Homo sapiens: one gene and its partners. The protein of the gene in region 6 interacts with the protein of the main gene of each other region in a biochemical or structural test. Each region holds a gene or a part of one and is shown on either strand. Other genes may lie near its edges. The genes, in order: SDHA, COPA, COPB2, COPG1, KRT9 and WBP2.

The links.
Region 1: the proteins of WBP2 (region 6) and SDHA form a complex in vitro, tested with the Homo sapiens proteins (one study listed by BioGRID).
Region 2: the proteins of WBP2 (region 6) and COPA form a complex in vitro, tested with the Homo sapiens proteins (one study listed by BioGRID).
Region 3: the proteins of WBP2 (region 6) and COPB2 form a complex in vitro, tested with the Homo sapiens proteins (one study listed by BioGRID).
Region 4: the proteins of WBP2 (region 6) and COPG1 form a complex in vitro, tested with the Homo sapiens proteins (one study listed by BioGRID).
Region 5: the proteins of WBP2 (region 6) and KRT9 form a complex in vitro, tested with the Homo sapiens proteins (one study listed by BioGRID).

What each region holds. Positions count from the first base shown.
Region 1 is NC_000005.10:235,320-238,819, forward strand, and holds part of SDHA (succinate dehydrogenase [ubiquinone] flavoprotein subunit, mitochondrial), read left to right. Parts: coding exon 1-20; intron 21-1,108; coding exon 1,109-1,280; intron 1,281-3,500. UniProt on the Homo sapiens protein: Flavoprotein (FP) subunit of succinate dehydrogenase (SDH) that is involved in complex II of the mitochondrial electron transport chain and is responsible for transferring electrons from succinate to ubiquinone (coenzyme Q).
Region 2 is NC_000001.11:160,291,251-160,294,750, reverse strand, and holds part of COPA (coatomer subunit alpha), read left to right. Parts: intron 1-157; coding exon 158-267; intron 268-1,287; coding exon 1,288-1,365; intron 1,366-1,516; coding exon 1,517-1,585; intron 1,586-1,924; exon of another isoform or gene 1,925-2,130; coding exon 2,131-2,267; exon of another isoform or gene 2,268-2,552; coding exon 2,553-2,739; exon of another isoform or gene 2,740-2,821; coding exon 2,822-2,932; exon of another isoform or gene 2,933-3,254; coding exon 3,255-3,416; exon of another isoform or gene 3,417-3,494; intron 3,495-3,500. UniProt on the Homo sapiens protein: The coatomer is a cytosolic protein complex that binds to dilysine motifs and reversibly associates with Golgi non-clathrin-coated vesicles, which further mediate biosynthetic protein transport from the ER, via the Golgi up to the trans Golgi network.
Region 3 is NC_000003.12:139,369,148-139,372,647, forward strand, and holds part of COPB2 (coatomer subunit beta'), read right to left. Parts: intron 2,687-3,500; coding exon 2,576-2,686; intron 398-2,575; coding exon 309-397; intron 221-308; coding exon 114-220; intron 1-113. UniProt on the Homo sapiens protein: The coatomer is a cytosolic protein complex that binds to dilysine motifs and reversibly associates with Golgi non-clathrin-coated vesicles, which further mediate biosynthetic protein transport from the ER, via the Golgi up to the trans Golgi network.
Region 4 is NC_000003.12:129,270,106-129,273,605, reverse strand, and holds part of COPG1 (coatomer subunit gamma-1), read right to left. Parts: intron 1,840-3,500; coding exon 1,697-1,839; intron 1,461-1,696; exon of another isoform or gene 1,363-1,460; coding exon 1,191-1,362; intron 800-1,190; coding exon 702-799; intron 1-701. UniProt on the Homo sapiens protein: The coatomer is a cytosolic protein complex that binds to dilysine motifs and reversibly associates with Golgi non-clathrin-coated vesicles, which further mediate biosynthetic protein transport from the ER, via the Golgi up to the trans Golgi network.
Region 5 is NC_000017.11:41,569,260-41,573,308, forward strand, and holds the start of KRT9 (keratin, type I cytoskeletal 9), read right to left. Parts: upstream 2,801-4,049; 5' UTR 2,734-2,800; coding exon 2,092-2,733; intron 962-2,091; coding exon 879-961; intron 757-878; coding exon 600-756; intron 329-599; coding exon 167-328; intron 1-166. UniProt on the Homo sapiens protein: May serve an important special function either in the mature palmar and plantar skin tissue or in the morphogenetic program of the formation of these tissues. Plays a role in keratin filament assembly.
Region 6 is NC_000017.11:75,848,836-75,852,335, forward strand, and holds part of WBP2 (WW domain-binding protein 2), read right to left. Parts: intron 2,842-3,500; coding exon 2,733-2,841; intron 905-2,732; coding exon 769-904; intron 1-768. UniProt on the Homo sapiens protein: Acts as a transcriptional coactivator of estrogen and progesterone receptors (ESR1 and PGR) upon hormone activation. In presence of estrogen, binds to ESR1-responsive promoters. Synergizes with YAP1 to enhance PGR activity.

The DNA of each region.
Region 1 (3,500 bases), on a different chromosome or scaffold from region 6:
CCACCAACTACAAGGGGCAGGTGATGGTGCTGGCTCCTCCCCCACAGCTGGAAAGAAGGCTGGGACGACGGGGCCCACCTCGCAGTTGTCTCTTTAGATCTTACAGGAAAAGATAGATGTTTCCTTCAAGAAAGTACTGTATTGTTTTCTAGATTGCACTTTAAATTTCTATTACCGGAGGATGGAGGGGGCTTAATAATTTATTCCTCCTTAGTAAATTGTCAGAGATACATCATTTGCAGCTTTTTCCATTTTGTAATTACTTTCCTATATGATCTTGTGTTATTTCTAATGATCTTACACATCAAGGGATCTTTATAATTCATTCCTTTGAGTGGTTTGTGGTTCACACAGAGCTTGTCAGTCACTTAGGCTCCTTGTTGGGCGAGGTGGGTGGAAGCTGTTGCTCTCCCTGCGTAGACGAAGAGGTGAACGGGGTAGAACAGTCTGGAACATCAGTCTCCCCTGCTGATGTTCCTCCACCTGCCGTGCTCCTGGGTCTGAGCCGGAGCACAGGTGGTGAGGGCCCCGGGAACATGGGACACGGGGGACAGTCGCAGATGCTGACATTGGAGGTCCTCTGACCTGCTTGTAACAGCAGGTGCTCAGGGGCAGAGGGGAAACTGGGGGATACCTTCGGAAGCTTCCCTCTGAAGAAGAGTAGCTATGGTCCTTACTTCCCTCTTAGATACGGTCTTTACTTCCCTCTCTTTTTTTTTCTTGGAGATGCAGTCTCACTCTGTTGCTTCGGCTGGAGAGCAGTGGTGCGATCTCAGCTCACTGCAACCTCTGCCTCCCAGGTTCAAGTGATTTTTCCGCCTCAGCCTCCCTAGTAGCTGGGATTACAGGCACCCGCCATTATGCCCCGCTAATTTTTGTATTTTTAGTAGAGATGGGGTTTCACCGTGTTAGCCAGACAGGTCTTGAACCCCTGACCTCAGGTGATCACCCACCTCAGCCTCCCAAAGTGCTGAGATTACAGGCGTGAGCCACCACGCCTGGCCTACTTCCCTCTCTCTGACCTGCAGCACAGACACCCTGTTGGGGAAGGTGGGCTGGTGGAGGCATGGGCACCTTGACATTTCACCTGAAATCTTCCTTTCCACAGGTCCTGAGGCACGTGAATGGCCAGGATCAGATTGTGCCCGGCCTGTACGCCTGTGGGGAGGCCGCCTGTGCCTCGGTACATGGTGCCAACCGCCTCGGGGCAAACTCGCTCTTGGACCTGGTTGTCTTTGGTCGGGCATGTGCCCTGAGCATCGAAGAGTCATGCAGGCCTGGTAAGTGTTTTCTTCAGGAGCCAGACTATTTGAGAAGGCGCAGGACGTTAGAAAGTCTTTTTTCTTTTTTTTGAGAAAGGGTCAGCCCAGGCTGGAGTGCAGTGGCACAGTCATAGCAGCCTCAACCTCCCGGGCTCAAGCAGTCTTCAACACCTCAACCTTCAGAGTCCCAAGTAGCTGGGACTACAGATGTGCACCACCACACCTGGCTAATTTTTAAAAAAATTTATTTTGTAGAGACAGGGTCTCACAATATTGCCCAGGCTGGTCTTGAACTCCTAGACTCAAACAGTCCTGCCTCAGCTTCCCAAAGTATCGGGATTACAGGCATGAGCCACTGCACCCAGCCAGGTTACAAAGCCTTGATTTCTTACTGGAAATTTGCTTAGTGATCATATAGAGGTAGTCTGGGTTTTTCCCCCAGAAGTGATTAAACTGAGAAATCCAGAAATTATATGGTGGTAATGTTGAGACTAGATAGAGGCTGGTTGGGGATCTTAACAGTTAAGGTGACATTTTTGGGGTTACATTTTTTTTTAATTATTTTGCAGTCATTATGTTCTGTTTAGAAAAAGCACTATTAGAAAGTTGTTATTTTTAGGGGAATCATTACATATTACTTGCCTGATAAAAATCACTTATTTGCAATGAAATATTTTAAGTAGTTGGCATGAATGAATATGTAACTTCTTGGTACTTAGAAAAGTAATTTAGGCCATTCTAGAAACAAAGTACAGCTAGCCTCTATTAGAGGAGAAGGGATGACTTACAGTGAACAGGATTCCCACCCTTTACGGACAGATTGGATTTCACTTGCTGGTTTTCTTTTCATGATAGCATCAAATAATGTGCAGTAAAGGAAATACCATGTGTGGGAGTGTGAGTCTTACGTGCACTAAGAACGGGGCAGTTAGCATCTCTCCCACCTCCAGACATCCTCACGGTGGTTATCCAGCCTCGTGTGCTCAGAACAGTGTGAGGTGGATGAGGCACTGGTGGATGTTTGCGTGGCAAGGATGGTGGGACCCCAGGCCCATGTTCTTCCCGTTACCTTTCTCTGGTGTTAACTGTTAGCATCATTTCTGCTGTTTTTATACAACAGGTGCTTTTTGTATGGATTCAAGTGAAATAAAAACTAGCACGGCTGTAACTTATAAACGTGCCCCCTTTTGTATCTGTAGTTAGAAAGGTGCAGATAGTATTAAAAGGGTAGCTTACTTCAGACACTCTGTCTCTGGATCTGACCACCGCTCGGGAGGCCAGCACACGCAGAGCTGGCGTCTCATCCCCAGCCATTGGTGATCATCGGCGAAGGCGGAGTTCAGGTCCATCGTTCCTGACGCCGCAGGTAGTGCTTGTCTCACTCCATAGCCCTGCACTTTGTCGCAGTGAGGACTGATACCACTTCTCTCAGAGCAATGTAGAAATTTTGAGCTGCTCTTTCTTTGAAAATGCAAAAAAGAACATTTTGTAAGAATACCCTATACTTTACATCTGAGAAACCGCCCACGCATGCAGCATCTCACGCAGAATGCTGTGGAGTCAGACTCAAAAGGCTGCATGCCTGTGGTTCTGTTGATACGACATTCTGGAAAAGGCACATCTAGGGAAGACAAGGGATTGGTGGTTGCCAGAGGCTGCTTCCTGATTGTGCTGAGACTTACAGACACAACTCTGTGTGTGTCAAAATTTGAAAAACCCTACACTAAAAATGATGAGTTTATTTTACTGTATCTTTATGCTTTAATTTTCAAAAATGAAAAGGAAAGAAAAAATGCTTGTAGCATCACTATTCTCCCCCAAAACCCCCTGCAAAAAAAAATACATATATATACACATATATATGTATTTTTTTTTTTTAAGAGATAGTCTCCCTCTGTCGCCCAGGCTGTAGTGCAGTGGTACGATCAGGTGCACACCACCACACCTGGCTAATTTTTAAAAATGTTTTGTAGGGACAGGGTCTCCCTGTGTTGCCCAGGATGGGCTTGAACTCCTGGCCTCAAGTGTTCCTCCTGTCTCAGCCTCCCGAAGTGGTTACATGCGCCTATACATGTGTTAAAATTGGTAGAACTGAGGCTGGGTGCAGTGGCTCACGCCTATAATCCCACCGCTTTGGGAGGCCGAGGCAGGCAGATTGCTTGAGCTCAGGAGTTCGAGACCAGCTTGGGCAACGTGGTGAAACCCCGTCTCTACCAAAAATACAAAAATTAGCTGGGC
Region 2 (3,500 bases), on a different chromosome or scaffold from region 6:
AGACTGTTCTGGGGTGATGGACACCTTGGATTGGGACTGGGTTGTGGGTAGCTCTGCAGACTTCCAGGCCATGAAACGAACTAGGATTGATTTTACTTCCTTTGGCTAAGATTATGCCACTGCCCAAATCTGTTTTGAGCTTGAATTTTCCTTACAGATGGGTTTGTGGAGGCTACAGAAGGTTTGGGGGATGATGCTCTTGGCAAGGGACAGGAAGAAGGAGGTGGCTGGGATGTAGAAGAAGATCTGGAGCTCCCTCCTGAGCTGGTATGTGGAATTTGTACCCTTAGAAGGTTCTCTCCGTATCTCCCTGTGGAAGCCAGAGGCCTTATTGTCCCCTACCACTATCCTCAGGTCTCCTATCCTATCCCCTACCACTATCCTAAGGTCAGCCCTTCTGGGAAGGGGACTAGACCCTCCTAGTCTGATGCTTATCTCCCATTTGAAAGAAGGAAGATGGCTGGGCACGGTGACTCATGCCTGTAATCCCAGCACTTTGGGAGGCTAAGGCAGGACAATTGCTTGAGCCCAGGAGTTCAAGACCAGCCTGGGCACCATAGCAAGACCCTGTCTCTATTTTAAAAAGTAAAAGAAGCAGGAAGAACGAGAGAGTCAAAGTTAGTGGCCTTGTCACTTCCATCTATCCTGATATGCTCCAAGAGGAGAGGATGTAGGACTTATCTCTAATCTGATGCTTAACTCCCATTTGAAAGAAAGAAGAATGAGGTAATCAGCGTTCTGCCAGCAGCAGCTTATGAGAAGGTAGCAAGCTGTTTCATCTGAATTGGAGTTTTTGATATGTCATTTTGTCACTGGTGAGGTGGCTCCTATTTTGGCAGCCTTCTCCCACAACTATCACCCCTCTTCCTCAGTGGGGGCAGGGAACAATGTAAATGGTTGTGTTCTAGATTCAACAGAACAAAGTGCTTGAATGGCTTAAAAAATTACTCAATTTGGCTGGGCACAGTGGCTCACGCCTGTAATGCTAGCACTTTGGGAGGCTGAGCCAGGCAGATCACTTGAACTCAGGAGTTGGAGACCAGCCTGGGCAACATGGCAAAACCCCATCTCTACAAAAAAATACAAAAATTAGCCAGGTGTGGTGACTCATGCCTGCAGTCCCAGCTACTCGGGAAGCTGAGGTTGGAGGATTGCTTGAGCATGGGAGGCAGAGGTTGCAGTGTGCCGAGATCATGCCTCTGTACTCCAGTCTAGGTGACAGAGTGTGACCCTGTCTCAAAAAAAAAAAAAAAATTACTCAATACTCAATTTTTGTTTTTCCCCTAGGATATATCCCCTGGGGCAGCTGGTGGGGCTGAAGATGGTTTCTTTGTGCCCCCAACCAAGGGAACAAGTCCAACTCAGGTAAGCGGGAAGAAACCTAGCACGGCAGGGATGAGTGGCTAATACTTGATTGGTATATAACAGGTGTTGGCTACTTTTCTACTATAGTTACAGAGGAGAATAGAGAAGGGACAAAGTTTCACTTGGCTTGGGTTTTTTTGTTTCTTGTTAGATCTGGTGTAATAACTCTCAGCTTCCAGTTGATCACATCCTGGCAGGCTCTTTCGAAACAGCCATGCGGGTAAGTAACCTTGGCTTTTCCTCTTGAGTGTGCCTAGCCCAGGGTCCCCGGGAGATGGTTGACTCATTTTAATCAAGGGAAATTATCCTACCCATAAGGGGAAAGGTGTATATTTTTCATGAAAACTCTTTATCTTTGTTAAGTACACTTGCCTTCCTGTTATCTGCCTTCCACTTGGCCTAGTAATCTCTTAGGGCATATCCTTCAGTCATCTTCCACCCATTTATAGCTTGCTTTCTGGCTCATATCAGTGAGATAAGTACCCCTTTCCAAGCAGAGGTCTGTTTTGAACACTAAGCCAGTATTGTTATAATAACAACAATAATGATAACACTGCAATAACTGCTAACGTTTATTTAATGTTCACTGTGTGCCAGGCACTATCCTAAATACTTTAATAGGTATCATTAAATGAGGTAGGTCTTACAATTAAGTGTATTTTACTGATGAGGAAACGTGAACAGAGAAATTAATTACCTTGCCCAAGGAAAAGTAGCTTTTTATGCAGCAGGGCCAAAATCCTTGTTTCTTTCCTTCTGTTCCAGCTCCTTCATGACCAAGTAGGGGTAATCCAGTTTGGCCCCTACAAGCAACTGTTCCTACAGACATACGCCCGAGGCCGCACAACCTATCAGGCTCTGCCCTGCCTACCCTCCATGTATGGCTATCCTAATCGCAACTGGTAAGGCCCTTTTCTCTTTGCTTTCATCTGTTCCAAGTTGTGGTCGATATTTCAGATGGTAGCCTCAGTGACATAGTCAGAATTCTCTCAGAGCTAGGGTTTCCCAGTAGAAAAAGATCTTTGGTTTGTTACTCTATGGGGTTGGTTTACACCTGCTGTCATCCTCTTCCCCAGCTACTTTAACAGGAGACAGGAGGGTAGCTATGAGGATGTTTGCCAGAAAAGGAAATTGGGTCCTAGTTGCCTACTGACTATCCTGTCTTCTTCCTACTTTTCCCTTTCCAGGAAGGATGCAGGGCTGAAGAATGGTGTACCAGCTGTGGGCCTGAAGCTTAATGACCTCATCCAACGGTTGCAGCTGTGCTACCAGCTCACCACAGTTGGCAAATTTGAGGAGGCTGTGGAAAAATTCCGTTCCATCCTTCTCAGTGTGCCACTTCTTGTTGTGGACAATAAACAAGAGATTGCAGAGGTAGGAGGGTCTAGCCGCTGTCCCAGTTCTGGGCACTTCCACATTCTTGTCTCTGTATCCTGACCTTCTGCCCCCTCTACAGGCCCAGCAGCTCATCACCATTTGCCGTGAGTACATTGTGGGTTTGTCCGTGGAGACAGAAAGGAAGAAGCTGCCCAAAGAGACTCTAGAACAGCAGAAGCGCATCTGTGAGGTAAGATCTATAGGACCCTGAGCACAACAGAGACGTCCTTCCCTTCACCCTTCACTAGGTTTGAATTCTTTAATTTCAAACCCAGATCTGAGTGGGGATGAAGAGAAATTTAGGCCCTTCATTTCTATGAGGGGAGGATACATTTCTTCATCCTACTTCCTCATCTCACCAGTCCTCCATACCTAGGAGGTAGAAGACCTCTCAGCTTTATAGCCCATCATCCTATTTTGTGTTGTGTTTTTTATGCATGTGTAGCAGCTTAGAAATGACTTCTACCAGGTGTAGCATCAACCTGGCATGTGTTCCTTTTTCTGTCCACCAGATGGCAGCCTATTTCACCCACTCAAACCTGCAGCCTGTGCACATGATCCTGGTGCTGCGTACAGCCCTCAATCTGTTCTTCAAGCTCAAGAACTTCAAGACAGCTGCCACCTTTGCTCGGCGCCTACTAGAACTCGGGCCCAAGCCTGAGGTGGCCCAACAGGTAGATGGAACTCCTTCAGTGACCATAGGGAAGCCAGATCAGCTCTTACATGGAGGGAGCAGACCAAGGTCCTTGCCTCTGAAA
Region 3 (3,500 bases), on a different chromosome or scaffold from region 6:
TTTTGATAATCGAAGAGGGAGAGCAGGGTACAAAAGACACTTCTTGGCCTTAGGGACCCAGAACTCATCACAAAAATAAATATTCCAAAAACAACAATGGAGGGGAAACTCACATGTTTGGGCTGAATTTCAATTCTTCGTATGAGTTCTGTATTGTCCCAGTCATAGAAGGCTAAGCCATTTACAGATCTGACTCCCAATAAGAAGCCGCCGTAGATACCTAAAGGGAACATAAAAAGAGTTTTGCTTAGGCATTTTTGAGCCATTACAAAGAATTTAAAAATGTATCATATGTAGATCACACTCACTTTCTGCTCCAAAATCTGGTTTAAATGATTTTTTTTCCTTAAAGTTCTTAAATATCTTTACAATGCTGTTGCTCTCTCTTATTGCATACCTGGGAGAAAAAAGGGAAGGCAAACATAACATGTTATATACTAAATCATAGTTCTACCAAATGTTGGAAATATCTTCAAATATTTTTCAGTAATTATGCAAAAATATAAAATAAATATTTGAAGATTATCTGATGTACTGTTTTCCTAAGAGATCAGAGAACTCCTTACAGTTGGACAAATGATGAAAGGGTTTTATACTGTGTATGACATGAATTACTAGGGCTTACAAACCACTTTAGAAACTGAAAATGACCCAAATGTCCACAATAGGTGAATGATTAAACAAATTATCGTATATTCATATAATGGAATGCTACTCTGCAAATAAAGAAACCAATTACTGATCCAGGCAAGAATATGGATGAATCTCAAAAACATTATACTGAACAAAAGATGCTGGACTCAAGAGTACATACTGTATGATTCCATTTATATGAAACTCCAAAGACAACTCTAATCTATATAGTGACAAAAGGCACTCATCAGTGTTTGCCTGGGACTGGGGAATGGGTGGATGGGGGGTATGGACAGACTGTTAATGGAGACAAGGGGATTTTGCGGGGATGATAGAAATGTTCTATAATTTGATTGTGTTAGTAGTTACGGATTACATACATTTGCCCAAATCTACTGACATGAACAGTAGTCCTCCCTTATCCATGGGGGATACGTTCTAAGCCCCAATGGATGCCTGAAACCTCAGATAGTACTGAACCCTATATACACTATGTTTTTTCCTATAATGTAAGAGGTGGGCAGCATATACAATGTGGATATGCTAGACAAAGCGATGATTCACGTCCCAGGTAGGATGGCTCAAGATTTCACCATGCAACTCAGAACACTGGGCAATTTAAAACTTATGAGTTGTTTATTTCTGGACTTTTCCACTTAATATTTTTGGAACACAGTTGACTGTGGGTAACTAAAACTGCAGGAAGGGAAACCACAGATCGGGGGATCGCTGTACAATTAAGTGGTACATTCTGTCTTCTGTAAATTATACCTCAATAAGGGCGATTTAAATAATAAAAACTGTGACAAATGGTTCATTAATCAGCCATCATCAGCAACAACTGCTTATATTCAGGCCTCTGCCTTGAAAAAAGGAGCTGTGGCTATCACTGGATATTTAAGATTGTCTGAGGAAGTGATGTGATGAGGGCTTTGCTCAGGACAGGAAAGATGCTGAGCAAGGTCTTGGCTGGATAGAGCTGAAAAAAAGGACTATCAAAATAGAGGAAGAGGTGTGCTGAGAGAAGGCAATTCATCAACTATAATTTTGCTTAAGATAACACATTACCTTTGAATACATAGAACTGTATGTATATGTGTATTTAGGAAATTTATGAAAATATCAGAACAATTCCATACCTCTCAATAAATCTTACTGTTGTAACATTTTAAAAAATGTATCTTATTACACAACGCTGAGGCTTAAGTTACCCCACTGTTGGGGGCAAGATGCAACATAAAATGTGGGGCAAACAAAACTAAAAAAACTGTGAAAATGTAATTCAGTTGTGTGGTCTGAAAACACTAAACCCCTAATGTTTATTACGTGCATTAAACAGGAATCAAAAAGGAACCAGAGCCAATGACTAGTAAAAAAGTCAGAGTTAAATGATCTTTCCTGCTTTTAATGAGAACATTTTATGAACATTCTGAATTCAGACAGAAATTTGTTAAGAATGGGCAGTGGGTACTATCACAGAAAATAAGTTTTAAAAAAGATTTAATAAATTTCTCATCAAAATGATCAAACCACAACATCACTCCCAAGTAGCTCATAAAGGGGCAGTAGCACCTCAGGACACTACATCACAGGGAGGGCATGCCAAGGCCTGCCAAGGCAGACATGAGGGTCTACTGTGCCTTAAGCCCATAAAGCACCAGGTCCTGCCATGGGCTCCATCAAAGAAATGGGTGCTGGGTCCCCAGTTAAATGGAATTATTGTATCAGCTTGAGTGAGCCAGCCTAACGCAGAACAAAGAAAGCACTAAGACGGCTCATGCTATACACTCGCCTCTGACTCTCATCTTCCAATGGACAGCTCTGGTGAGAACTGTTTTTTAACACGGAGAATCACAGCCCACATCAAGCCTTGAGAGTCTTCAAGCAGCACACAACACATCTGCAATCAGGGCATGCTGGCTATCATACAATCAAAACTTACTCTGAAGAATCGTGGGCCCATGCAAACTCCTGAGCAGATCCAAAGCTCTTGTTTCTCAATGCCATTGCTGTGTAGATGATATACTCCCCATCACCACACACCACCACAAACCTAGAAATCACAGAAGCCAGGGAGGGAAGTACAGAGGACCAAAGACATGTAGAAGTTAAGGAACAATAATTCATGTTATGGTAAAAGAATTCTAATAACAAATGTTATTTAGTTCATTATTACAATTTAACATCTTTTAAAAGTTATACATTTCTTTGAATACAAAGTTACAAAAAAAATTCTAGCCAACAAATTGAAAAGGAAATTATGAATATGGCATTACTGCTGAAATGTTATTGGAATGGTCTTCTCATAAATAAAGGCAACTGGAGGCAGGAAGGTGAGAATGGCTGGAAATGCAAAGGAGGAGGATTCCAATTATTCAACCAGTATTTGTTGAGCACCAAGATGCCTAGAACTTTGCTCATGACATTTATACCACAGGAAGGCACTATATTATTACAAAGACTATCTTCATTTTAAAGCTGATCATTCAAATGAATAAAAATATCTCACTCCAGGTTTTAAAGACTTAAATTCAGCAAAATACAGAGGATATTTTAACATTTAAATAATGAGAAAACAGAATGCTGCAGAGTCAACGAAAATTTTCCCAATGGACATAAGACAACTATCTTTAAAGTTGTTTATAACACTGTAAAGGCTGGTATCAAAAGACTGCCAAAGGCAAAACTTACAGCCAAGAATGTTTTACGATATTAAGGGAAATATGCATAATGCATTCTTAACCTTTATAAGACAATTATATTACAAATAATTATGGATACCATTTACTGAACTAGGCGGCATACTTGGTTTATATCTTTTGTCTTTTTCAATACTCAGCACAGCATTATAAGATGCCCAGACCTGC
Region 4 (3,500 bases), on a different chromosome or scaffold from region 6:
CAAGTTTTGACATAGTATATAACAGTATTTTAAATCCACTAAAAAAATTGTGTTTATGAAGTATTTGTAATGATACTGGAAAATACACTATGGTTTTAAAATAGCAAGGTCTACACTGTAAGAATGATTTCAATTATACCACTTCCCCCCAAAAATAACTCTAAGGATTATGAGTAATGTTTTCCTGTTGTTCATACTTTGTTTTGAATTTTGTTTTTGTATTTCCCAAGTTTTCTTTTTACACATGAACATGTATTTCCATAAGTTTAAAAAGTTATTTTAGGCCGGGCGCGGTGGCTCACGCCTGTAATCCCAACACTTTGGGAGGCCAAGGTAGGTGGATCACCTGAGGTGAGGAGATCGCGACCAGCCTAGCCAACATGGTGAAACCCTATCTCTACCAAAAATACAAAAAATTTGGCAGGCATGGTGGTGGGCGCCTGTAATCCCAGCTACTTGGGAGGCTGAGGCAAGAGAATCGCTTGGACCAGGGAGACAGAGGTTGCAGTGAGCCGAGATCGCGCCACTGCACTCCAGCCTGGGTAACAAAAGAGAAACTTCATCTCAAAAAATAAAAATAAAAAAATAAAATTTTAAAGAGCTAAAAAGCCAAAAACAGCTCCAGTCTCACTGTCAGTTCCTGAAGGGAGTTGCTTTGCAGCCTCAGCACAAAACTGAGCTTCCTGACACCAGGATCTTACCACATACTCATCCTCATAGCCTTCGTCATCAGTCTCCCCAGTGGTGGGATCACAGTCCTTGACAGTGAACTTCATCATGCAGCTGAATGTGCAGGCCACTGTGGGGAAGAGAGGCTGGGTAGTTAGGATGTCCCCAGCCTGCAGGGGATGGGCTCCTCCTGCAGGGGACAAGCAGGCAGGGGTCACAGCCTGCTTTCTAGGCCCCTGCTATGTTATTAGTAGCAGCAACAAGCCATCCAATCCCACAAAGCTGGACAGAGGGTGCCACCTTGTAGGACAGGAAAGTCATGAGTTCTAGTGAGATCCTGTCTCTTTAAAAAAAAAAATTTTTAAAGAAGAGCACTTGGGACTCAGCTATTCTTCTTCTTGGGACTGAAATCAAGGAGCTGAAGCTCTAATAGAAGGCAAACAGCTGGTGCCCAGCCGCCCACCTCCTCCTGACCCCATGAGCTCCCAGGAGGATAGGGTGGTATCTGGAGAGGGGCTCACCAGCTGTGGGGTCTTCTTTGGGCAGTGCCACCAGTGTGTAGCAGGTCCCGGGCTGGTTGTAGGGCAGGCTCCGGGCAGGCACGTAACAGAGCACCTCATAGGCCTCAGTGGGCTCCATCTGCACTGTGACATTCTCCAAGGTCTGGTCATTGAGTGTGTTTGTGCAGTCAAACTGAACAGGAAAGAGAGGGGAGCTTAAACATTGCACTAGGTCCGAGCCATGCTGCAGAGGAAAAGCCAGGAGGTCCCACCTCTTTCCTATTGACCAAGGTGATTCCCATCCCAGTCCCCCTGCCCCAGGTTCCCTGTCTTCATGCTGACAATCGGGAGCCATGGATGTCCCGAGTCAAGAGATATGAGAGACCGACCTGTTGGGGACAGATTCTGTCATCAAGTTGGGCTCCCAACCAATGCAGTGTGGGGACCCATGACCCTACAGGACCTGCCAGACCTGGGACAACTCCCTGGGCGCATGCCCCAGCAGGGCCTCAGCCCACCTTGCTCACCTGAAAAACCATGTGGTTGGTGAAGGTGTGTTTGGTGCAGCGGATGACATACTCCGTCTCTGACTCGGTGAGGGCCACGGGCTCAGGCGAGGACTTGAAGAGGGGCCCAAGACCGCGGAACTCTGGCACTGCTGCCAACTGCTCTGAAATCCACAGGCCACATTCACTCAGCTTCTCGATCCCCAGACCAACTTGTTGATGGTTTCTAATAAATTCCCATGACCATTCTCAAGGTGTTCCACCCTACCTTAGATGGATAGATATGTTTACCCAACTGGCTACTCATTATTTCCTGAATATATCCATGCATTTTCTCATCTCCCTGACTTCGCTCATGTGGCACAACCCCCCACAAATACTCTCCCCATCTCTGTACCATGAAAGACCTCAGAAGCAAAAAACTGATATGAGACCACAAAATCCTAGACCTAATTGGAGAATCCCCCAGCTATAGAAGCTTAGCAAGGATTTCCGCCCCCTACCGCAGCAAGGATTCTTAAAAGAAGGTGACAATTAGGAAAATAAGATCGATACTGCTATAGCTACAAAATCAGACAAAATAACAAACTGGTCCTATATATTTATCAGTTAAGACAAATGGCCAATAAAGAGATATTTCAGAATGAGAGTGTTGCAGAAAACCTAACTTAGAATTGTTTGTGTCTGGTAAGACCTATCCCTACACCCTATGCCCAGGTTCAAGCACTGGATTCAAGCACAGGCCCATGGGACCCCACCCTGGCTGGTCCTGGCATTCCTTGCAAACTAAAGGGAATAACCCAAGTGAATGAGGCATCTGGCAGATGTGTGCACATGGTGTCCACCTATAATGGCTACAGCTGCCACTCTTGTACCTATTCTATGGCAGGATTCCTCGCACTATGACCATGGATCAACTGTATCAGAATTACTAGGGGTTGGCGGCAGAGCTTGCTAAAAACTCAGACTCCATCCCAAATCTACTACATCAGAATCTCTGGTTTCAGGATCAAGGAATTTGCATTTCTAACATGTTTCCTCAGATTATTCCAATATATACTGATATTTAAAGACCACTGCTCTAAGATTTTCAACTTGTCTTCCCAATTAATTGAACTCCATGAGAACAGGGATTGTGCTTTGAGGCCATGGATCTGATATTTTTCCCTTTACTTAGAAGGTACTCAATTCACGTTTCAGACATAGAGAAAGGTAGGCCTTATTTTTATTATTTTGCTTTTTTCCTCCACAAAAAGTCAGCCTATGTGACCACTTCAGCCCTCTGCAGCCTGAAGACTGAATCTAATGAATATGCAGGCAATAAAAAGCCCAGAACAATCCAGGCTAGATATTAGGAGGAACTTTTGGGCCACCATGACCATCAACCACTAGAGTGCTTTTCTATTGATATTTATTTTCTTGGGACTCAGAGTTTTGGGCCTGATACTTACTCCCTGGGGGATTCTGTTGGTAGGGTTTCAGACTCTTCATCAATAAAACTGATATCATTATCTTGATCACAGCGTTGTTGTAAAGACAAATGAGGCAATAAATTCAAGATCTAGGAAAGTTCTTGGAACTGAACATGTATGTGATTAGTAAATGTGAGGCTTTTGGATGATTGTTTAAAAATGGAATTGTTACCCTTTAAGCGGCTTAGGAGACTTCCTTGGAAGGTGTGGCAGAATAATGACTCCAAGATGCCCACATGCTAATTCCCAGAACCTGCAGCTATGTTACCTTGCATGGTAAAAGGGACTTTGTAGATGTGATTAAATTAAGGATCTTGAGCTAGGGGTTATCCTGGATTATCCAGGGGGGGCCA
Region 5 (4,049 bases), about 34 Mb from region 6:
GTATGCAGTGAATGAAGATGGATGAATGACTTCCATTGGAAGATGGATAAATGACAGCTGCACTGAGAGATGCAGAGATAGGAGGATGAAGGAATGGGAGGTGGGAGGGATGGAGATAGGAATAGATGGAGGGGAGGAGGATGAATGGGCAGCCCACTCTGCTCACCTGAGTCTCATATTGATTCTCGATGTCCTTTCTGTTCTTAGCAATGAGCTGCTCATACTCCTGACGCATGTCATTGAGGGTCTTGGTGAGATCTTTGCCAGGAGCAACGTTTATCTCCACATTGACATCTCCACTGTTCTGCCCAGTCAGCTGACTCATCTCCTGCCAGGGAAGAAGGGGAGATGAGGTCACGGATAAAGTCCTCTGCACCACCTTTCAGAATTCTCCCTCTGGTCCCCCCAGGGTACAAAAAGGGGACACAGTTGTGAAGCCAAAGCCCAACCACTACCATAGGTGATGCCAAGGAGAAGTTGAAAGTGTCCTCAAGAGCAAAGGAGAGGGTGTCTCCCAGGTAATGTTCCAAAGCTCCCCTGCTGTCTCTGCATTTCTGCTCCTCCCTCTTCCCGGTAAGCCATAAGCCCCAGCAACCTACCTCCTTATGATTCTTCTTGAGGGCCATCAGCTCCTCCTGCAGAGTCTCATACTGCATCTCCAGGTCAGACTTCTCCATGGTCAGATTGTCCAGCACCTGCCGCAGGCCATTGATGTCAGCATCCACTCCTTGCCGCAGGTTTTGCTCCATCTCAAACCTGCAGACCAGCCAGGGTTAGAAAACAATCAAGAGGGAACCAGGCCCTACCAGGACCTCCAGAGCACTGAGGTTCAGGGGTAAGGGCTGATGACAGGAGAGGAGAAGAGGAGCAGGACTCACTTTATCCTGAAGTCATCCAGTGTCATGCGAGTGTTGTCAATGTCCAGGAGAGTTTTGTTGTTGCCCACTGTCAGGTCCACAATCTGAAAAAAAAAGGACACAGCCATGATATCATGCTGTGGACCACTGCTGAGAGGGCAAGAGGCCAGGCAAAGCCACAGGAGGTGAGGATTCCATCCAGGAAGATTCTCAAGAGGAATGAGGAACTTCCAACAGCTGGGACATGGCACAGACCCCTTCCAGCCTTCAGCGAAGATGTTTGGTGTGGCCTTCATTCATTCATTCAACAAATATTTGAAGATCTACTGCAAAGGGCATTGTAGGATTTAGAGATTACTGACATCCTGTTCCTCAGGGAGCCCACCATTGACTACAAAGTCAAAAGTGTCCTAAAAGAGTTCAAGGAAAGGAGAGGTGGCTTATGGCAATGGGAGATCAAGAAAGACTTCAGGAAGGAGGTGGCTGGCAATTGAATTGGGCCCTGAAGGATGGCTAAGATGTAACATTAATAAATAAATGGAAGAGGTTTAGAGTAGAAGAAACAGCACATTCAGAGACATGCAGGAGTTAAAACAAGAGGAATCACTGAGAATACTGAAGAGCCAGACCGTGAGCTCCACCAGAACTAGGTCTAGCACATCACTATGTCTACCCAGAGCAACCCTGAGGGTAGGCACTCACTGAACTGAGTGGCTGAATAAATGGATAGATAGATAGACATGTGGGTGGAGGGAGGAAGGGATAGATGGAAGGATGGATGGATAGATAGCTTCCATTCCCAGATTTCTGGATCCTCTCCAACACTTGAATAACCAACATGTACAGTCAGGTCCAAAATACCTTAAAAGATCAAGATACACTCCTAAAGAAGCCCAGGAGAAGTACAAAGGAAGAGAAAGTATTGACTTAGACCAAACCTAAAGGAGGTTCCACATCCAGTCCCAGCTCAGCTCACGTTAACCCAGGTCTCCTCTCTGCTCTGCCCAAACTCTGAAAGTTGAGGAAATGGAAGTGAACACTCAGAGCACAGGCCAAAGTCCTATCCTGGGATCCCCAGAAACCAAACACAAGTTTGTTTCTGATGAAAGCGTACATTTCCAAAAGGTGGATTCCCTGGCTATTATCTGAGCTTAGAGTTTAGCATTTTAACTTTTTTGGAAGATAAAGAATGAAAGAGAAAGAGACCAAGACAGAGACAGTTTCCTGCACCTACCTGGTCCTTGAGATCATCAATAGTGTTATAATAAGGGGAGTAGTTCTTCTGGATAGCAGCAGGTCCCTTCTTGTCGTACCAATCCTGGATCTTATTCTCCAGGTCGTTGTTGGCCTCCTCTAGAGCCTGCACCTTATCCAAGTAAGAGGCCAGCCGAGAATTGAGTTCCTGCATGGTGCTCTTCTCATTAGCAGTCAGAATACCACCATCACCTCCTCCAGCACCACCTCCAAAGCCCCCAAACCCCCCAAACCCACTCCCATAGCCACCACCAAAGCCACCTCCAGAACCACCACCAAAGCCACCTCCAAAACCCCCAGAACTACTATAGCCTCCTCCAGAAGCACCACCAAAACCTCTGGAACCACCCCCAAAGCCACCGCCTAAACTACTGGCACTAAAACCACCCCCAGATCCTCCGCCGTAGCTGTAGCCAAAACTGCCACCGCCTCCCCTCCCACAGACACGAGAGCTTCCCCCACCATAGCCACTAGAAGAGCTGAATCGGCCCCCTCCTCCACCGCCCCCTGAGGAGCTGAAGCGGCTGTAGGAAGACCTTATGCTGCCCCCGCTGCCCAGGCCGCCCCCGCCACCCCCGCCGCTGCGGCTCAAGTAGGACGAGGAGAACTGTCTGCAGCTCATGACACAGCTGGTAGCTCACGGGTTGAGAAGCAGTGATAGGAGTGCTACCGGCTCCCAAGTGCAGGGTACAGAGCTGTCCCTGGGGCTGCCTACTTATACCCCCAGCTGAAGGTGGCACGCCTGGGTGTGCCCTTGTTCTGTGCCAGCCTCCCCCCACAGACCCGAGGGAGGTCTGGGATACGGAGGCAGCCGGGCTGCCCCAGGCTCAGCGTCCTTTGGTGACTGCCTGGGGGCGGCCCAGCCTCTCTCCATTGTGTGGGATAATTTGATGACATTAGGCTGTCAGGGCCACCATAAATCAGCTGTACTGCCACAGGGGTGACCTAGATCCTGGAGTCTGGTCTCTGGCTGGCCCCAACAGCAGGTCTGAGACTTAGCCCCTTCGGGATAGAAACTCCCAAGAGCAGAGTCACCTCCTCTATTGATGGTCATTACTGTCTGCATCCCTCATGCCTCCTTGCTCCCACCTTGTGCCCACTGTGAGCTGAGCTGGAACTAGGGTACTAAGGAGTTATCATAGAGGAGGGGGAGGCACAGCCCCTGCCCTTGTGGAGCCCCAAATGGATGAAAACCAATCCTTGCTCTCAGGATCCTCGAGGCTTTCTGCAGAGTCTGAGGCTCTGCCCTTGGGAGACTCCAGTTTGATGAGGAGGCAACTGGCATGGCCAAAAGATGGAGACGGGCACCGAGACCATGCCCGCCAGCACTAAAGGACAGCGTGCAGAGTTCACACAAAGGGCTGGAAGAAGAAAGTGGACCAAATAAACAAGGTGGTGCTGACACTAGCTGACCTCTGAGCAGGAATGCAAGTGGCTCGACTGTCCTGGTCCTTTTGCAGGGCCCAGCAGGGAGTGTGGAATTGACCTTGGTTGAGTGCCTACCCCATACAGAACTCTGGAGGGGATACAGAGATGTGTGACTTATCCCTGCTCCTGGCAGAAACTTGGATGTATATTCTGGTCACCAAGGCCAGAAGAGAATGGTAAAGAACACGCTGGTCTCCGGTGTGCCTACCTGAGCTCCATCCAGCTCCATGCTCATGAGCTGTGTGACTTTGATAAGTTACTTAAATACTCTGTGCCTCAGTTTCCTCCTTTGAAAAAGGTTGATATGAGTAGTTTGTCCATCTCCTAGTAAGAGACTTGTGAGAAGTGCTCAAAAAATGTTCGGCTGCCTCTGATCATTCAGCCCCCTAACTCCCCGTCAACTCTGCCCTCACCCAGACCTTAGCCATGAGCTTCTAACTGCCCTCCCTGCCTCTCCCATTCCCTCTGACTCTTCCTGCACAGCAGCCAGAATGACCTTTCTAATCCATG
Region 6 (3,500 bases):
GGAGCCAGCACTGCAGCCTGGCCTGGCCCTGCTGTACTCGCTTCCCCCTTTGGAACAATGGCCTCTCCTTCCTGGAACAAGCCTGTCCTCCCACCCTTGGCCCAATATGTACACGGGTGCCAAGGCCACATCAAGGTTTCTCTCCGCCCCCAGTCAAGCACTCGGCAGCTTCACAGGAACAAGCCCACTCAGCAACAGCCGACCTTAAAATTCAGAGCAGACCTCTCGTCCTAAGGGGGCCCAAGGACAGACTCCGGCCCCTCTAGCCTGGCTTCTGCCCAAAGGGGGACCAAGAGTGTCTCAATAGCAAGGGCGGGCCTGGCTGGGTGTCAAGGGGAAGGCAAGTTCAATGCAGAGGTCTCTGGGGCCTGCCAAAAAGCCAGCCCCAAAGCAGGGTGACTCTGGCTTCCCAGAGGCAGCTGCCTCTTCCTGGCTCTCATGAAAAGGCCCCTCTCAAGAACCTGATGCAGCTCCTTCCTGAGTCTAAAATTTGTATGCGCTCGCCAAGTTGCACTAAGCATCTTGACTCAGTCCGCAGGCTTCTGCAGACTTCACGCTCTGAAAAGCTGATCTGAGCTGCTGTCTTTCATGCCAGCATTTTCCCCACCTCTTGGCAATCAAACCCCACCAGCTGGCAGCCCAGAGCTGGGAAGAGGTCATGGCTAGGGCGATAAGGGTCTGAAGGGGACGCCCCCACGGCGGCAGTCAGAGGTTCCCAGGACACCTCCCTGCAGGCCCCATGCGTGTCCCTGAGTTCCCATCACCTACCTCCCGCTTCCGCCTTCACTGTTCCCTTGATGTAGTTTGCACCAAATACGGGCTGCTTGATCTCACAGTCTTTCATGAGATAAAATGGCATCATGAAGGACTGCATGGCATCCTTGCCCTTGGACAGAAAGATGACCTGCAGGGAGAGAGGGTGAGGCCATCAGTACTAGAAGCACAGCCCACGCTGCCATGCTTCCCGCCTGCTTCCTGGGAGTGACGAATCCTCTCCCAGTGCCAGGGTCCAGCAGCCCCATGGCTCTCTCTGTGCCAGACACTCCTGGAGAGAGCTTTGGAAAGGGAAAGGGCTCACCGCAGCCTGGAGAGGCCAAGCTCACGCACACGGGAGAAAAACGTGCTGGTCACAGATAGTATCTATGAGCAGGGCAGACTGCTTTGTCACTGACGTGGTGGGGTGGTGGCAGTGTTGCCTAAGTGAAGGGGCCTACGAAGCTAGGGAAGGACAGGCAGAGGCAAGGCAGGGATGGGTTCCTGAAAGAGGGGGGTCTCCAGCCTGAACTCTCCAGAACTGAGAATGATGGTGCAGTAGGTCGCTAGCTCCCATTGAGGGGGGCTATAAACAGCAACAAGAGCTCTCCTGGAGCCTGTGCCTGGAGAAACCCTTGGGTTTTATTTTTTCTTTTCTTTTCTTTTTTTTTTTTTGAGATGGAGTCTTACTCTGTTGCCTGGGCTGGAGTGCAGTGGCGCGATCTTGGCTCGCTGCAAGCTCCGCCTCCCGGGTTCACGCCATTCTCCTGCCTCAGCCTCCTGAGTAGCTGGGACTACAGGTGCCCGCCACCATGCCCGGCTAATTTTTTGTAGTTTTAGGAGAGATGGGGTTTCACCGTGTTAGCCAGGATGGTCTCGATCTCCTGACCTCATGATCCGCCCGCCTCGGCCTCCCAAAGTGCTGGGATTACAGGCATGAGCCACCGCACCCGGCCCCAGCCAGGGTTTTAAACCCACGACTTTTATCTGTGACTGAAGGTGCCAAGTTGAGCCTCCAGAGATGGGGTTTTGAGACTCTCCTGTCTTTGTGAAGTCATGGAGATTAAAACTTGAAAATGTGCTCCTCTTCTTCCAGCTGTCTTTGAGTCTAAGTCTTTTTTTTTTAGGCAGGGTCTCACTCTGTTGCCCAGGCTAGAATCCAGTGGCATGATCCCAGCTCACTGCAGCCTCAACCTCTCCAGGCTCCAGTTATTCTCCACCTTACCTCTCGGGTAGCTGAGACTAGAGGCATGTGCCACCACACCCAGCTAATTTTTGTATTTTTTGTAGAGATGGGGTTTTGCCATGTTGCCCAGGCTGGTCTCGAACTCCTGAGTTCAAGTGGCCTGCCTACCTTGGCCTCCCAGAGTGCTGGGATTACAGGCATGAGCCTCCGCACCAGCCTGTCTTTGAGTCTAAATCTTGAGTAGCCACAGGCAGCAATCCTTTTCCAAGAACATCCATTTGTATTTCTCAACCTCTCAGAGTCCACGTGGGTAACTCTCAGGCAGGGCCCATTCTGCAGCCTGGCATTTGTCATTCTGCGGGGTGGTACCGGGCTCTCTGCCCAGTCCGGAGGCCGTGCCATGCAACTGTACCCTGTTTACTGGATTTCTCACTCTGGATACACACAGGGCTTCATGGGCTACTCTCACAGAAAACAAAATATTAATAATAATAGTCTGGCCTCCAGGCCCAAGTCATGCCAGCGGCTGCATCCAACTCTATAGAGATTTTGCAGCAGCGGCTCTGGAATTGACATGGGTTCACTGCCCAGTGGTCAGGTCAGTTACACAAAGAGCCTGGTGATTCTGGAATCCAGGAGCATGTGACAGAGAAACAGGCAGAGTGAAGCACTAACACTCACCAGGATTCAGAGGCCACCTGACTCATGAGGCTGAGGCAGACCTGAGACTAAGACTCACGTCACCTCCAACAGCAACAAGCCTCTCAACCAACTGCCCTGCTGTGCAACTCACCCGGTAAGGGGTAAGGTAGACAGTGCCTTTCTTGGTCCCTTTGAAGGCTTCTGGCACGTTCTTCATGTCATTGAATGTGAGTTCCACGTGATCATAGGACATTAGGATGCTGTGATGAGAAAAGAGGAAAAGCCTCAATGAGACAGTATGGAGACGCGACGTCACCCAGACACTGGGCCTTTCTCCCAAGCAGCTGCCCGGCACGTCAGCTCTCATAACCTCTCAATAGTGCGGCATTAAAACTATTCATAGGGCTGGGCGCGGTGGCTCACGCCCGTAATCCCAGCACTTTGGGAGGCCGAGGCGAGCGGATGACCCCTGGTCAGGAGTTTGAGACCAGCCTGGCCAACATGGTGAAACCCCATCTCTACTAAAAATACAAAAAAATTAGCCAGGCACCGTGGCGGGCACCTGTAATCCCAGCTAGTCAGGAGGCTGAGGCGGGAGAATCGCTTGAACCCAGGAGGCAGAGGTTGCAGTGAGCTGAGATGGCGCCACTGAACTCCAGCCTGGGCAACAAGAGAGAAGCTCTGTCTCAAAAACAAATAAATAAATAAAGCCATTCATAGGGCCAGGCGCAGTGGCCCACACCTGTAATCCCAGCACTTTGGGAGGCTGAGGCGGGTGAATCGCTTGAGCCTAGGAGTTTGAGACCAGCCTGGGCAACATGGTGAGACCTCATCTCTACAAAAAAACTAAAAACCAACAAAAAAACCCATTAATATAGCCATGGAAGAAATGAGCAGGTTGGGGGTTCTGTAAAATTTC